Regions from separate parts of the Homo sapiens genome. Here region 1 is linked to region 2. The links come from fine-mapping of genetic effects on gene expression. A gene starts in region 2. The other region holds a variant in brackets. All regions are shown on one strand. Distances are between the middles of the regions.

Region 1 (2,915 bases), 290 kb before region 2:
CCCTATCACAGGTGGATGTGAGTCAGAGGGTCACGTTCCGTCATACAGAGCGGTGCCCAGTGTTTTCCCGTGACAGTGGCACTGTTCGTTCACCACAGTCACCCTGTAACCGGCAGCGGTGCTGTTGACTTCGTCATGCCAAGGGATATCCAGTTCCGAGCACCTTCTGTTGCGTGTCTAAGACACTGTGGGAGCCTTTGGGAGGCAGGATGGTTTAAAATGGGGCACAGTTCCATATCACTTAGACAGAAGGATCAGGGTGGATTGTGACCTCCCAGTGATTGTCAGCCCTTCTGTCCTCCTTTCAAAGCTTTCAGACTTGGGGATACAGTTTGGCTCTGTGTCCTCACCCAAATCTCACCTCAAATTATAATCCCCATAATCCTCAAGGGTCAAGGGCGGGGCCAGGTGGAGGTGATTGAATCATGGGGGCGGTTTCCCCCATGTTGTTCTCGTGATGGTGAGTGAGCTCTCACGAGATCTGACGGGCTCGGAAGCGTCTGGCCTTTCCCCGCTTGCACTCACTCTGTCCTGCCGCCCGGTGAAGAAGGTACGTGCTTCTCCTTTGCCTTCTGCCATGACTGTCGGTTTCCTGAGGTCTCTCCAGCAATGCAGAACTGTGAGTCAACTAAACCTCTTTTCTTTATAAATTATCTGGTCTCGGTATTTCGTCACGGCAGTGTGAGAATGGACTAATACACTTGGGTTACAATTTTGGCAGACAAAATTGTGTTTTCTGTGTTTAGAATTACCAAAAAAAAGTAGGGAGATGGGGATGGTTTACATATAATCTACTCCTCTTAAAAGTTATTGGAGTGCAGTGGTGCAACCTCGGCTCACTGCAACATTCGTCTCCTGGGTTCAAGCAATCCTCCTGCTTCAGCCTCCCAAGTTGCTGGGATTACAGGCGCTCGCCACCACGCCCTACTAATTTTTGCATTTTTAGTAGAGAGAGGGTTTCATCGTGTTGGCCAGACTGGTCTGGAACTCATGACCTCAGGTGATCCACCCGCCTCGGCCTCCCAAAGTGCTGAGATTACAGGCGTGAGCCACTGTGCCCGGCCCTGGCCGACTGTCTTAAATTGTGCAATCTAGTGTCCATAAAACTCTAATTATTTTGCTGTCATTTAAATTTTTTTACTATTTAAAAATTTCACGTGTAATTACAGATGGTACGTTTGTTGAGAAAACATA[T/C]GTACCACAGTATTTGTAGTCAGAATTCAGAAATAAGCACTGTAATGTTTTAGTGTGTATCACATTTCACGTCATTTCTATGCAGAAATAGACCACATGCCACAGAGTGAACTTTGTCTCTAGCCTCAGCTTTCTCATCTCTAAAGTGGGGAGATCCTCTCCTGCTTCACGGAGTTGTTGTTAGGATGGAATGAGCTCGTATCAGTAAAGTGCTGACAGCACTGTATACTAAGTTTTGGAAATGGAATTTAACTGTTTTATAACCTGCTTACCAGGGTTTGGGGCCAGACATAAAATTCATGCACCCCACTTTTGTCACATTCCACTGGAGAGAGCTGAACCTCAAACTCACACCAGACTCCAAGAGACACAGAAAACATAGTGTCCTGAGCAGGCTGACCCAGCGTAAGGCCAGGACTGCAGAGAAAGGGAAGCAGGTTTTGGTGGAGAGCTGATCTCTGCCCCAGGGTATTTTACCATTTTTCTATGTAAGTGTTAATATTTTGCTTTTCGATATATGTGTGTTCTTTATAAATGAGGGACAGCAACCTTATGACTCATGTATATTGCAAAATTTTTCTTTGGTGTCACTTTTCACTTGCAAAAATTTTCTTTGGTGTCATTTTTCACTTTTAATTTTGTTCATGGAATTTCCTATTTTTATTTGTTGTTGTTGTTTTAGACAGAGTCTCTCTCTGTCACTCAGGCTGGAGTGCAGTGGTGTGATCTCGGCTCACTGCAACCTCGCCTCCCAGGTTCAAGTGATTCTCCTGCCTCAGCCTTCTCAGTAGTTGGGATGAGAGGCGTATGCCACCACACCCAGCTAATTTTTGTATTTTTAGTAGAGATGGGGTTTTACCATGTTGGCCAGGCTGGTCTTGAACTCCTGATCTCAAGTGATCCACCTGCCTTAGCCTCCCAAAGTGCTGAGATTACAGGCGTGAGCCACCGTACCCAACTGGAATTTCCTATTTTTTGAAAAAACTTTTTGTAATATATTCACACATGTGACAAAAATGCATTAGAAAATAAAATTGCTCAGAATTCCACAACTACAAATGGCAATTCTGTTGCCTTGACGTAGTTGTGTGTGTTCCTTACACACTTGGGTTTATACTGTATATTCTGTAGATAATTTTATATCCTGCTTTTTAATTTAATATTATATTGTGAGAATTTTCCCATGAAGCTGGAATTTATTTAAAAACATACTTTTATGACTGCTTGTCAAAGCAGATGTCGTCACTCCTGTCATCCTGGGCTTAAAGGTGGACTCTGCTTGGTTTCCTTAGGTTGAATTTCTAAAAGAGAAATTACTTGTATCAAGGACACACAGAGAATGAGAAACGTTTGAAGCGGTGGTTATCCTAAATACTCTAATTTGATTATTAAGCATCGTATGCACAAATCAAAATATCACATGTACCTCATCAATATGTACAACTATTATGTATCAGTTAAAAAATGAATACACCGAGTTCTACTCGTCATGGACATTCAGCAAGGTTAGTGAGTCAAGCCGTTGAGGAAGCCGCTTTAAGACTGTGTCTGTAGAGTAATGAGCCACCTTAAAAACCTGGTCAAGAAACCATGTACTTTGAAATCCATCAGTTTTAGAGTCAGAGATAAACCACTGTTTGAAATAAAGGGTTGTTTTCAAATGTATTATTTTTAGAAGAATTCAGAACATCTAAAACTATGTTAGAAACCAAACTTACTTC
Region 2 (2,915 bases):
AGCAGGGTTGAACCCTTACAACTAGGCCAGGCAAGCACCCCGTGCATATTTCGGAGACAACAAAATGCCCCCAGGACCAAACAATATTTTCCGCACCAATCAATCAAGGTACCTAAAGGGTTTTAACCCACTGCCGTTTAAGGTAAAAGAATTAGAGAACTCTAAGGTAACAAGCAAAACAGTCACTGGATTAAGGTATGGCTATCTGGAAAGAATCACTTTTTTTTTTTTTTTTTTTTTTGAGACAGAGTCTCGCTCTGTTGCCCAGACTGGAGTGCAGTGGCGCGATCTCGGTTCACTGCAACCTCCGCCTCCCGGGTTCAAGCGATTCTCCTGCCTCAGCCTCCCGAGCAGCTGGGATTACAGGCGAGCACCACTACGCCCAGCTAATTTTTATATTTTTAGTAGAGATGGGGTTTCACCATGTTGGCCAGGCTGGTCTTGAACTCCTGACCTCGTGATCCACCTGCCTCAGTCTCCCAAAGTGCTGGGATTACAGGCGTGATCCACTGCACCCGGCCAAGAATCACAAATTAAAGCCACCGCAGTAATCGGTCTATCTGCTAATCGTTTACAATTGATTGTCTCCTACAGAAAAGTGTATGAAGAAATAGGAGATTTAGTTTAGGTAGGTTTTCAGCCAACACCGGTTATTGGTCCACGAGTGTGTGCATGCCAGACACTAGGTCTGAATGCAGGAGGAAGGCGGTTGCTGAGCAGGTGGCGCTGCCTGGGGCCACCGGGTGTGTGTCAAGAAGGAGGGCATCCAGCTCCTGGAAAAGGCCACCGCACCTGAAGGACGGCCCTGGGGACAAAGGACGCCTTGGGGACTGCGAGTTGGGGGACAGGAGCTTTAGGGGCCAGAGTGCTTGAAGGCGCGTGTCTCAAGGGAGCCGCAAGGCCCCCGTGAAGAGGAATCCCCTTTTCCTCCTGAGCTGTGGCCGGACTGGGTGGGGAGCCCAGTTCCAGGGGTAGCAGGAGGGGGCTGCGGGATTCCCCGGGGCCGGGGCTCTCAACCCACCGCGCGAAGGCCCACGTGTCCTCCCCGGCGTGCTCTCCCGGTGCGCCGCCCCGAGGCCCGAGCGCCTCCGCGTGCGTGGCTGACGGCTTGGAGGGCGCCCCCTCTGCCGCGGCCTTCCTGCAGCGGGGGGACAAAGAGGGCGGCGGGCGGCTGGCGGCCTTGAGCGCAGCCCGGTCGGCAGTGCAGGGCCTGCGAAGCCCGCGGGCCGGCGCAGGGGTGGGAGTCGGGCCCGGGGCCCAGAGAGACCTTCCGGGGCCGGGGCTGCGGCTCCGCGGGCTTCCCCACCGGCCGGGTCTCCCGGCAACTACCAGAGAGCGGGGGCGCCCGGGGAGGCCCGGCGTTCCACAAGGTCCACGCGTATTCGCGGGCCGCGGGGTCGCCGCCGGCCGCCCAGGCGCGGAGCCTCTCGGGGGTCACCCGGCCGCCGGGCCCGCGGGACGCACGGGGCCGCCAGGGGAGGACAACAAGCCTCAGGCCCTGTCCCTGCGCCCCGCCCGGCCTCCCCCGCGGGGCTGCGCAGCCCACTCGGCCATCCTGGCCTGAAGGGGCCGCCCCCGGCCTCGCGGGAAAGCCTGAGCCTCCCGGGCCTTCTCGGGCCTTCTCGGACTTTCCCCCAGGCGTCCTGGACCTTCTTCGGCCTTCCTGGGCCTCCTCGGGCTTCCTTGACCCTCCCCAGGCCTTCCCCGAGGCCTCCAGGCCCTTCCCTGGGCCTCTCCAGGCTGAGCTCTCCGCGACATGGCCAGTGGGCCTCTGGGACCCGGGGCCCGGCCCACCCGCCTCCACCCTCCATTCCCACCGCCTGCTCACATCAAGCCAGGAGCACCGCCCGGTACGTAGTCCTCCAGACTAAGCTACAATATATACGCATTGATACATGTGAAGTTATATCTATGCTTGTACAATATATTAACATAGAAGAAGAGGCATCCTTGTTGACACCAAGCTCATCCGGTCAGTTTCAGGTCCGTCGTCGGCCTTTCAATAGGAAAAACAAAAGATGATTTTTTTTCTTTTTTCATGTAGAGGATACATGTAAATCACACAGCCCAATTTTGTACCCCGAAATGCATATCTCCTATTACAGCTTCATGAAATAAGTGGAGGGGTGGGGGAAGAATCTCTCTCTATCTAGTTAGATATATCTGCATAGCTATCATCACCCCCACCTTTTGATATAGAGAAAAATTTAAAACAAAATTAATTATATATTTAGGTACAGCAAATGAATACTAAACATTTGGGGGGATGAGATCACGGCCATGTCCCTCTGAGAATCTCCCCATAAAAATGCACTTATATACCACATGTTGAAAACAATGTCAGGGGTTTCTCAGGTTCTTTGATCCCTGACTCCTGACTCTTTCCTCTGCATTTCCATTTTCTCCTCAGAAAGACCTTCCCTTTAAAGAAGCTCTTCCCACCTTCCACCTACCTTACTCTATTTCATGACACCCCGTTGTTATTTACTTCTTTGTACTCCTCATAATCTTGCTGTTTACTTGTTTGTTTTTGTATTGTCTGTCTCTCCCCAGTAGAATATCAAACTCCATGTGGGCCGGGGCCTTGTCTGTCTAGTTCATTTCTGTATCCCCAACCCTTTAAAACTGTGCTGGGCACATAGTAGAAGCACAGTGGTAGAAGCACAATCGATGTAAGTGAACGAACAAGATTTGTGCAGGCCTCATTCCTTGCAGCCTCCTTGGAGGTTTCCCTTCTAGGGCCCTCTCTTCCTTCGGCTGTTTTCCATACTGCTGCTCTAAAATACAGACCTGCTCAACTGCCTCCTAATGCCGGAAGGAGGAAACCCTAATTCTGCAGCCATCCCTTAGGTATCTGCTCATCACCTTCCCAGCGCCCACTACATGTCAAGCACATCGGACATTTTACAATTTTC

Evidence for each region.
Region 1: its variant is fine-mapped to the expression of FAM217A in testis (GTEx, PIP above 0.99).

Annotation. Positions count from the first base shown.
Region 1 is chr6:3,784,589-3,787,503 of GRCh38, forward strand. LOC124901244 (a long non-coding RNA gene) reads right to left here. Exons shown (of 2, transcript XR_007059412.1): 2 at 2,371-2,915. Among named protein-coding and RNA genes, the nearest start is that of PXDC1, 34 kb to the left of the region's middle. The variant T/C (reference allele first, on the strand shown) is at 1,195.
Region 2 is chr6:4,077,831-4,080,745 of GRCh38, forward strand. It overlaps FAM217A (family with sequence similarity 217 member A), which reads right to left and starts at 1,307. Exons shown (of 7, transcript NM_173563.3): 1 at 1,022-1,307. It also overlaps the pseudogene TEX56P.